2 separate regions of the Homo sapiens genome follow, and region 2 is linked to region 1. The links come from fine-mapping of genetic effects on gene expression. A gene starts in region 1. The other region holds a variant in brackets. All regions are shown on one strand. Distances are between the middles of the regions.

What was found. PIP is the estimated chance that this variant, and not a neighbour inherited with it, causes the effect.
Region 2: its variant is the best candidate, but not a certain one, in a credible set for the expression of KCTD13 in cerebellum (GTEx, PIP 0.86).

Annotation. Positions count from the first base shown.
Region 1 is chr16:29,923,360-29,928,359 of GRCh38, forward strand. KCTD13 (potassium channel tetramerization domain containing 13) reads right to left here and starts at 2,867. Exons shown (of 6, transcript NM_178863.5): 1 at 2,431-2,867. The coding sequence starts at 2,674. It overlaps KCTD13-DT (KCTD13 divergent transcript), which reads left to right and starts at 2,864. Exons shown (of 3, transcript XR_001752362.2): 1 at 2,864-4,323; 2 at 4,408-4,572; 3 at 4,909-5,000. RefSeq lists a silencer at 2,533-2,772.
Region 2 is chr16:30,158,082-30,163,595 of GRCh38, forward strand. No RefSeq gene overlaps it. Among named protein-coding and RNA genes, the nearest start is that of CORO1A, 23 kb to the right of the region's middle. The variant G/A (reference allele first, on the strand shown) is at 3,270.

The DNA of each region.
Region 1 (5,000 bases):
CTAGTGGGGTGGGGAGAGGCAGGGGGAAAGATGGCTTTGCTGCGGGACCTGGAGCTACTAAATTAAAAAAAAATTTTTGTAGAGATGGAGTCTCACTATGTTGCCCAGGCTGGTCTTGAACTCCTGGGCTCAAGTGATCCTCCCATCTCGGCCTCCCAAGTACTTGGATTATAGGTGTGAGCCACCAAACCTGGCCTAAATTATAAGAAAAAAGGATTCCAGCCAGGCGCGGTGGCTCATGCCTATAATCCCAGCACCTTAGGAGGCTGAGGCAGGCAGATCACCTGAGGTCAGGAGTTTGAGACTAGCAGGACCAACACGGAGAAACCCCATCTCTACTAAAAATACAAAATTAGCTGGGCTTGGTGGCTGGTGCCAGCTACTCGGGGGGGGGCGAGGCAGGAGAATCGCTTGAAGCCGGGAGGTGGAGTTTGCAGTGAGCCGAGATCGCGCCATTGCACTCCAGCCTGGGTAATAAGAGGGAAACTCCGTCTCAAAACAAAAAAATAAAAAAAGAAAAGTAAAGAAAAGAAGGCCGGGCACGGTGACTGACGCCTGTAATCCCAGCACTTTGGGAGGCCGAGGTGGGCGGATCACCTGAGGTCAAGAGTTCGAGACCAGCCTGACCAACATGGAGAAATCCCGTCTTTACTAAAAACACAAAATTAGCCGGGCATGGTGGCGCATGCCTGTAATCCCAGCTACTCAGGAGGCTGAGGCAGGAGAATTGCTTGAATCCGGGAGGTGGGGGTTGCGGTGAGCCGAGATCGTGCCATTGCACTCCAGCCTGGGCAACAAGAGTGAAACTCCATCTCAAAAAAAAAGAAAAGAAAAGAAAAGAAAAGAAAAAGGATTCCAAAGCCACAAAAAAGTCTGAATACTGATCTGTCTCAAACCTGTGCCACAGCCAAGAAATCTCTTTAAAACATCTCCAGCGAGTTCTCCCTTAAGTTTTTATACATATTCAACCAGATAATTAACTCATCCATATCTGGTCTACAGTCAGAAGGCTCTCACCATGAGAAAGTTCTTGCAGAATTACCTTATCAATAAACTGTTAACCCCCGAAGTTAATTCTCACCATCCTATTTAATTAAAATGTCTACCTCCCCCCGTCCAGTTCACTGCCATTTTAACTTTTATATTCTTCATAGAGCTTACTATCAAAAAAAGAAAAAAGAAAGAACTTACTACTATCTGCAATTGCATATGCATATACATTTTGTTTACTTGCTTATTGGTCTTCTGATCTCCCACTTCCCTAAAAAAAGGGAATTTCCATAATTTTGTCAGGTTCATTTACCTATCTCCAGCACTAACTGATATTTTACAAATACTTATTGGACAAATGAATTCTTCCCTTTTTTTTTTTTTTTTTTGAGACAGTCTCTCTCTGTCGCCCAGGCTGGAGTGCAGTGGCGCTGTCTCGGCTCACTGCAACCTCCGCCTCCCAGGTTCAAGCGATTCTCCTGTCTCAGCCTCCCGAGTAGCTGGGCTACAGGCGCACACCACCACGCCCGGCTAATTTTTGTATTTTTAGTAGAGACGGGGTTTCGCCATATTGGTCAGGCTGGTCTCGAACTCCTGACCTCAGGTGATCCACCGCCTCGGCCTCCCAAAGTGCTGGGATTAAAGGCGTGAGCCACCGCACCTGGCCGAATTCTTCACCTTTGATACTTGAAGGCAGATCTCCGCCTCTCAAATTTTTATTCTCCTGCTCTCACAGTCCTCGTTAACCCCTCCCTTAAGACTCTCCCACTCCCAAACTCCAAAACTTCAAAGTCTCACTTGGGCACGAAGGGTCCATACTTGAATGCAACACTCCAAGAAGGTAAGGTTCACCTGCCAAGGAGACCTGTCCACCCTCCACTCTGGTGTCCCTGGCAAACCCAAAGCAGCCTCCTTCTGCAATGTGTGTATACAGGTGGATTCCTAGAGTGTACAGGGACCTGTGTCAGGGGAACACAGAGGCAAACAAGATCTCCCAGCTCTCCTGGCTGGCTGTGAGCAGTTCTGAAGCAGAGAGGGAAACAAAAGGCTGGGCAGTCGGAAGAAACTGAGGAAGGCTGCCAGGAGTAGTACTGCAGGCAGCAGGGCTAGTTCCCAAGTCTTGAGCTGAGGGGTGAAGGGTGGGAGAGGTGGTCATGAGGATTATGAACTGACACGTTCAATCACTTACCACAGCGCCTGGCAGTTAGGGGTTCCGTAAGTGTTGGTTATTGCTGGGGGTAAAGGATTGGGGGAGGAGAAGAGAAATTATGAATGAGAAAGGGGAGGAGATGGGATGTGGGGGCTGGAGGGAGCTGAGAATGAGTTGACTGGACAGTAGCGGGCAGAGAGAAGGGGCATGAGGAGCCCCGGTGGTGAGAGACTGCGGGGAACGGGAGTTGGGGGTCTGGGGTGGGGGCACGGTAGGGGCGCCGCTCGTACCTCCGGCATCGGTCAGCACCTCCACGCGGCCGCTGAACATGGCTTTGAGCATGGTGTCCTGTCCCGTGAGGGTGCGCAGCGTGGTGTAGTGCAACGAGCCGCCCACGTTCAGCTTCACGTATTTGCTGTTCGGGGTCAGCGGCTTGAGACCGTAGGCGGCGGGGCCAGGCTCGAGACCCGAGGGCTTGGGGGCTTCCAGGGACGGGGCCGCGGCGGCAGCCGGGCCCGAGGCCTCCGCCGACATGCCGGGTAGCAGCGGCGGACGGCGATCCCAGGATCTCTCCGCGCCCTGCGGCCTGCTCCCGAAGACCCTCGGCCGGCCCCCAGCCCTTGGGCCAGACCGCTCGGCGCACACGCCCACTCACCGCAGCTACTCTGCAAGACCGGCCCTCCGCCCCATCTCGCTCGCACCACCCGGAAGCCGGCGCCGGGCAGCTGCGCAGGCGCGGCCCCGCCCCTGAATGGGGGCGGGGCTGCGAGTATGGAGCATGCGCAGTGGCCTCGCTGGGGGATCCCGTAGAGGTTTGGCGTGTGGCCTGCGGGTTCCCCGGGCGGGTCGACGTGCGCTCCTCTCTGGTCTCGAGTCACCAGGACCAGATCGAGGATGCGGCCGACCCCCTGCCCGATGTGGAAAGCGAAGTCTCCACCTCGTGATTGGGTCTCTGCTGTCAGAGAGCTTCACGAGCTTGAGGGGAAACAGACAGAGAGGTCTGGGCATTGGGCAGTTTCCCGCCTCCCAGCCCCGCGCACTGAACAGACTGTGACCAGAACTGCGAACAAAGCGCGGAGGGAAGCTCTTAAAGGAGGCCAAAGCGGCCGGGCGCTGTGGCTCACACCTGTAACCCCAGCCTGTAAGCCTAGCTACTCGGGAGGCCGAGGCAGAAGGAGCGCTTGAAGCCAGGAGTTGGAAGCTGCAGTAATCCGTGATCGGACCGTTGCACTCTAGCCTGGGCAACATAACGTCCTTTGAAAAAAAAAAAAAAAACAGAGGCCAAAACGGGTAGCAGTGGTGCCCGGGCACCAAGGATGGAAGGCCTCTCTGAGGAGGTGATGCCGAGCTGAAGCTGGGAAGCGGATGTGAGGGAAGAGTTCCAGGCAGAGGGAAGGCAAATGCAGAGATCCTCAGGCAGGAACACTGAACTGTTCTCCGTATTTGAGGAGCAGAGGGCGTGTCAGTGGTGGCCGCAGCAGCTGAGCAAAGGTCTTAGAATCCCAGCTAATGTCGTGGGACCTAGCACCCAATCCCAAAAGAAAGAAGAATAGATAGGAACCCACTGTTGACAAGAAGGTGCACTGAGAAGTGTTTTTATCTGACCCGATCTGCATCCAGTTTAGAAGCCGATACATCAGGGATTTAACAATCTGTCTTAATGTCTAGCAAGGGGGGTTGCTGGAGGGAAAACACAGAGTCAGAGTTCTATCTTCAGCCCTGCCAGCAGGTCCCTGGGAGATGCTAGACGAGTGACTTTTCTCTGGGCGTGGTTGGTGTAAGGGATGCACACGCAGGAGGAAGGTCGGAGTGTAAATGTGTGACCTGGGCCTGTTACTGGGTATAAATGGGCCTGTAGTGACCGGGAGCTCATGTTCTACCAAAGGGGTTGCCAATTTTCTGATTTCGAGTGTGGCGGTGTAAAAGAGAAAAGCAACTGCTGCCAGCTGGGAGCTGGTTTGCACCCTCACTCCAGAAGCCTTGATGTTGCTAGGAGCTGACCTGGCACCAACAGCACGGCCATGGTGGTGTCCTGTTGAGCAAAATAATTTCACAAAAAACATCAGACAAGGTCACTCTCTGACTGATCTAGAAAAAGACCATTCCATAATAAAGCCTCAATACAGAAACAAGAACATTGTCCAAACCACAAAAATTACCAACACAATCCTCTCTCCCACAGCGTAAGTTACTGCTGCTTTTTTTTTGGTTGTTGTTTTTGTTTGTTTTGTTTTGTTTTTGAAATGAAGTCTTGCTCTGTTACCCAGGCTGGAGTGCAGTGATGCAATCTTGGCTTACCACAACCTCCACCTCCAGGTTCAAGCGATTCTCCTGCCTCAGCTTCCAGAGTATCTGGGATTACAGGCACCCACCATCATGCCCAGATCATTTCTGTATTTTTAGTAGAGACGGGGATTCACCAAGTTGCCCAGGTGAGTCTTGAACTCTTGACCTCCGGTGATATGCCCACCTTGGCCTCCCAAAGTGCTGGGACTACAGGTGTGAGCCACTGCACCTGGCCACTGCTGCTTCTTTACCAAGTACAGTTTTAGCTTGATTCATTCCTCCCATCTTCTAGATAAGAATTATTAAGATAACCAAAAAGAATTATCCCTACTTCCTGATAGCATCCAACCCAGAGCAAATGCCCCCCTTTTTGGACCCGCCTAGGAAGTCCCCTAATGAAAGTTCCAATCCTGTAATAAGTCCTTTCACACATGTTCTTGCTGAGATGTCTGTGGTGTTCAGCCTCCCTTGTTCAACTACAGGTGCTTCCTGGTGGTCCTTGGTTGGAGGGTACTATCAGAAATGGAGGAGCAACAAAGATTCAGCTGAAGCCCTCACTGCCTGGGACTGGGAC
Region 2 (5,514 bases), 230 kb after region 1:
AGAGCATTAGGATAAAGCTAATGTATTCAGGGCTTAATACATAAGTGATGGGTTGATAGGTGCAGCAAAGCACCATGGCACACGTTTACCTATGTAACAAACCTGTACATCCTGCACGTGTATCCCAGGATTTAAAATAAAATATAGAAAATACTCAACAATCATAATAAGTGTAAAAGAATTTTGGTCGGGCGCAGTGGCTCACGCCTGTAATCCCAGCACTTTGGGAGGCCAAGGCAGGTGGATCACGAGGTCAGGAGATCCAGACCATCCTGACTAACACGGCAAAACCCTGTCTCTACTAAAAATACAAAAATAAAATAAAATAAAATAAAAATAAATAAAAATAAAAATTAGCGGGGTGTGGTGGCTGGTGCCTGTAGTCCCAGCTACTCAGGAGGCTGAGGCAGGAGAATGGTGTGAACCCAGGAGGCGGAGCTTGCAGTGAGCCGAGATCGTGCCACTGCATTCCAGACTGGGGGACAGAGTGAGACTCTGTCTCAAAAAAAAAAAAAAAAAAAAGAATTTGAAACAAAAACGTGAAACTTCTGTGATTCAAAGAACACCGTCAAGAAAGTGAAAAAACGCCTGCCTGCCCGCCTTTCTTTCTCTCTCTCTCTCTCTTTCTTTCTTTCAACAGTCTCCCTCTGTTGCCGAGGCTGGACTATACTGCCGTGATCTCGGCTCGCTGCAACCTCCCTGCCTCAGGCTCCTGTGATTCTCCTGCCTCGGCCTGCCGAGTGCCTGGGATTGCAGGCATGCGCCGCCACGCCTGACTGGTTTTTGTATTTTTGGTGGAGACGGGGTTTCGCCGTGTTGGCCGGGCTGGTCTCCAGCTCCTGACCTTGAGTGATCTGCCCGTCTCAGCCTCCTGAGGTGCTGGGATTGCAGACGGAGTCTCGCTCACTCAATGCTCAATGTTGCCCAGGCTGGAGTGCAGTGGCGTGATCTCGGCTCGCTAAAACCTCCACCTCCCAGCCGCCTGCCTTGGCCTCCTAAAGTGCTAAGATTACAGCCTCTGCCCGGCCGCCACCCCGTCTGGGAAGTGAGGAGCGCTTCTGCCCGGCCGCCACCCCGTCTGTGCTGGGTGTGGTGGTGGGCGCCTGTAGTCCCAGCTTTTTGGAAGGCTGAGGCAGGAGAATCGCTTGAACCCAGGAGGCGGAGGTTGCTGTGAGCTGAGATTACACCACTGCACTCCAGCCTGGGCGACAGAGCAAGACTCCATCTTAAAAAAAAAAAAAGGCCGGGCACAGTGGCTCACGCCTCTAATCCCAGCACTTTGGGAGGACAAGGCAGGTGGATCACGAGGTCAGGAGATTGAGATCATCCTGGCTAACACGATGAAACCCCGTCTCTACTAAAAATACAAAAAATTAGCCGGGCCTGGTGGCAGGCACCTGTAGTACCAGCTACTTGGGAGGCTGAGGCAGGAGAATGACGTGAACCTGGGAGGCGGAGCTGGAAGTGAGCCAAGATCGTGCCACTGCACTCCAGCCTGGGCGACAAAGCGAAACTCCATCTCAGAAAAAAAAAAAAAAAAGTAAGAAAAGAAAAAAAGAAATGTAAAATAGTAAACAGAAATATCTCCCAGCTCTTAAAATTAGGCAATTCTGTTGGAAAGGACATAACTCTGAATAGAGGTTATAAGGAAGAGTTTGGATTTAACAGGAGAGTGCCAAGAAGCTCTTCCAGTTTACAAAGCAGGAGAGTATCATTAAGCCTGTGTTTTAGAAGATGACTGCATTCTGTGATTCTGAAATAGCTATATATAGGTTGCTCGTGAAATCTGTGCTGCTAGTCTTCTTTTTTTTTTTTTTGAGACAGAATCTTGCTCTGTCCCCCAAGCTGGAGTGCAGTGGCACGATCTCAGCTCACTGCAACCTCCGCTTCCTGGGTTCAAGCAATTCTCCTGTCTTGGTCTCCTGAGTAGCTGGGATTACAGGAGTGCACCACCACGCCCAGCTAATTTTTGTATTTTTAATAGAGAAAGGGTTTCCCTGTGTTGACCAGGCTGGTCTTAAACTCCTGACCTCAGGTGATCTGCCCGCCTCGGCCTTCCAAAGTGCTGGGATTACAGGCGTGAGCCACTGTGCCCGGCGTCGCTAGTCTTCTCTTACTGAAGTGAAACTCACCTCTATTCTTTTTTTTTTTCTTTTTCTGTTTTTGAGACAGAGTCTCAGTCTGTCACCCAGGCTGGAGTGCAGTAGCTCGATCTCGGCTCACTGCAGCCTTCACCTCCTGGGTTCAAGTGATTCTCCTGCCTCAGCCTCCCAAGTAGCTGGGATTATAGGAGTGCATCACCACGCCCAGATAATTTTTTTTTTGTATTTTTAGTACAGGTGGGGTTTCACCATGTTGGCCAGGCTGGTTTTGAACTCCTGACCTCAAATGATCCACCGGCCTCGGCCTCCCAAAGTGCTGGGATTACAGGTGTGAGCCATAGTACCCAGCCAGAAATAAATTTATTGACTGATATAAATTAAAATTCCTGTGTATAGCTGGCTTCAGGAAAGCCTGAATAGGTGTTCAAAGAATGTCATCAGGAACTTGTCTCACCAATCCCTTACCTGTGTTAGCTTCAATTAAAAAAACATATTTTTGGGCCGGGCGCAGTGGCTCACACCTGTAATCCTAGCACTTTAGGAGGCCGAGGTGGGTGGATCACCTGAGATCAGGAGTTTGAGACCAGCCTGGCCAACATGATGAAACCGTCTCTACTAAAAACATAAAAATTATCGGGCGTGGTGGTGCATAACCGGGCATGGTGGTGCATGCCTGTAATCTCAGCTACTCGGGAAGCCGAGGGAGAATTGCTTGCATCTGGGAGGCAGAGGTTGCAGTGAGCTGAGATCGCAACATTGCATTCCAGCCTGGGCAACAAGAGTGAGACTCCATCTCAAAAAAAAACCAAAAAACAAAAACAAAAAACATTTTTTTAAGAGACAGTTTCACTCTGTCGCCCAGAGCTGGGTCCAGTAGTGCAATCACAGCTCACTCTAACCTCAAAGTCCTGGACTCAGGCATTCCTCCTGTCCCAGCCTCCCGAGTCACTGAGACTATAGGCAAGCACCAGCACGCCTGGTTACTTTTTTTTTTTGAAACAGGGTCTCCCTCTGTTGCCTATGGTGGTATGCAGTGGTGCAATCATGGTTCATTAGAGCCTCAATCTCCGAGGCTCGAGCAATTTTCCCGTGTCAGCCTCCAAAGTAGTTGGGACTACAGGTAAGTGCCACAATGTCCAGCTAATTTTTTTTTCTTTTTATTGAGAC[G/A]GAGTCTCGCTCTGTTGCCCAGGCTGGAGTGCAGTGGTGCAATCTCGGCTACAACCTCCGCCTCCCGGGTTCAAGCGATTCTCCTGCCTTAGCCTCCGAAGTAGCTGGGACTACATGCGCGTGCCACCACGCCCGGCTAATTTTTTGTATTTTTATTAGAGACGGGGTTTCACCGTGTTAGCCAGGATGGTCTCGATCTCCTGACCTCATGATCCACCTGCCTCGGCCTCCCAAAGTGCTGGGATTACAGGCATGAGCCTCCATGCCTGGCCTGTCCAGCTAATTTTTAAATTTTTTGTTTTAGGGATGAGGTCTTGCTATGTTGCCCAGGCTGGTCTTGAAATCCTGGCCTCAAGTGATTCTCCCCTGGCCTCCCAAAGTGCTGGGATTACAGATGTGAACCACTGCGCCCGGCTGTTAGCTTCATTTTCAGGCAGCCTCTTCTTTCTGCCATTTTGCCGACCAGAGTCGAAAGAAATCTCATCCCTAAAAGTTCCTGCAATGGTGCTTGGGAAGAATCTCATTGGTCTACAGTAGGTCATAAATTCTTCTGTAAACTAATCACCATGGGGAAGAGGAGGTAAGGTATGTTCTGCTCGGCCAGGGTAATAGCAGTGGGAACAGAGGATGGACTGGCCAGGAAATAACATGGTGGAGGCAGAGTATGCAAGTGCTCATTGCTTAGCAGTGTTGGGAAAGAAAGAGGATTTTATCTATTGAATGCCAGCCATGTGTTGGCCACTGTGCTGGGCAAATGCAACTCATTTTGAAGGCCAGACATGGTGTGGCTCATACCTGTAACCCCAGCACTCTGGGAGGCTGAAGCAGGAGGATCACTTGAGGCCAGGAGTTTGAGACCATCCTGGGTGACACAGTGAGATCTCATCTACAAAAAATGAAAAATTAGCTAGGTCCAGTGGCTCGTGCCTGTGGGCCCACCTCCTGGGGAGACTGTGGCAGGAGGAGGATTGCTTGAGCCTGGGATGTCAAGGCTGCAATGAACCATAATCACACCACTGCACCCCAGCCAAGGCGACAGAGCAAGATCCTGTCTCAAAGAAACAGACAACAACTCAGTCTGTGGAAGAGGGGGACATATAAACAATGACTATCCAATGTACCAGTTACAATGATTGAGGTATACAGCAAGGGCCACTAACACAAAACAGAAAGGAAAGCATTTGGGCAGTGACTGTGGGTCAGGGGAGAGGCAGTTCCCAGAGAAGGAAATCTTGACTTGAGTTTTATTTATTTATTTTAATTTTTATATTTTTGAGATGGAGTCTCACTCTGTCACCCAGGCTGGAGTACAGTGGTGCGATCTCGGCTCGCCGAGCCACCACACCTCGCCAGGTTTCAAGGGATAAGTAGGATACATGAAAGTTTGGTAGGAAACAAAGAGTAAGAGATTTCAGGCCCAGGCTGGGCACGGTGGCTCACACCTGTAATCCCAGCTCTTTGGGAGGCTGAGGCAGATAGCTTGAGTTCAGGAGTTCGAGACAAGCCTGGGCAACATGGCAAGACCCTGTCTCTAAAAAATATATAAATTAAAAATAAATTCAGGCCAGGCGCAGTGACTCACATCTGTAATCCCAGCACTTAGGGAGGCCAAGGTGGGTGGATCATTTGAGGTCAGGAGGTTGAGACCAGCCTGACCAACGTGATGAAATTCTATCTCTACCAAAAAATTAAAAAATTAGTCAGGTGTGATGGTGCATATCTGTAGTCCCAGGTACTTGGGTGGCTGAGGCAGGAGAATCACTTGAACCAGGGAGGTGGAGGTTGCAGTGAGCCGAGATGGTGCCACTGCACTCCAGCCTGGGTGACAGAGCAAGACTCTGTCTCAAAAATAAATAAATAAATTAATTTTAAAAAAGAGATTTCAGGCCCATGTCAAGGGCAAAGAACAGAGTCAAAAAAGAAAAATTGCTGGCCAGGGCAGGGCCTGGTGGCTCATGCCTATAATCTTAGCAGTTTGGTAGGCTGCGGTGGGAGCATCACTTGAGGCCAGGAGTTTCAGACCAGCCTGGGCAACATAGCAAATCCCTGTCTCTATTTCTTTAAAAAAAAAAAAAAAAATCTGGCCAGAAAAACCACATCCAAACCAAAGACATATTTAGTTTTGCTCGCACAACATTTTTAGAAATTTTTGAATTAGTTGCCAACATTGAAAGATCTAGAGCTTTCACATAAAAATCCATATTTCTACTTTATCTTGAAAAGCCAAGTTTGGCTACACAGGGCC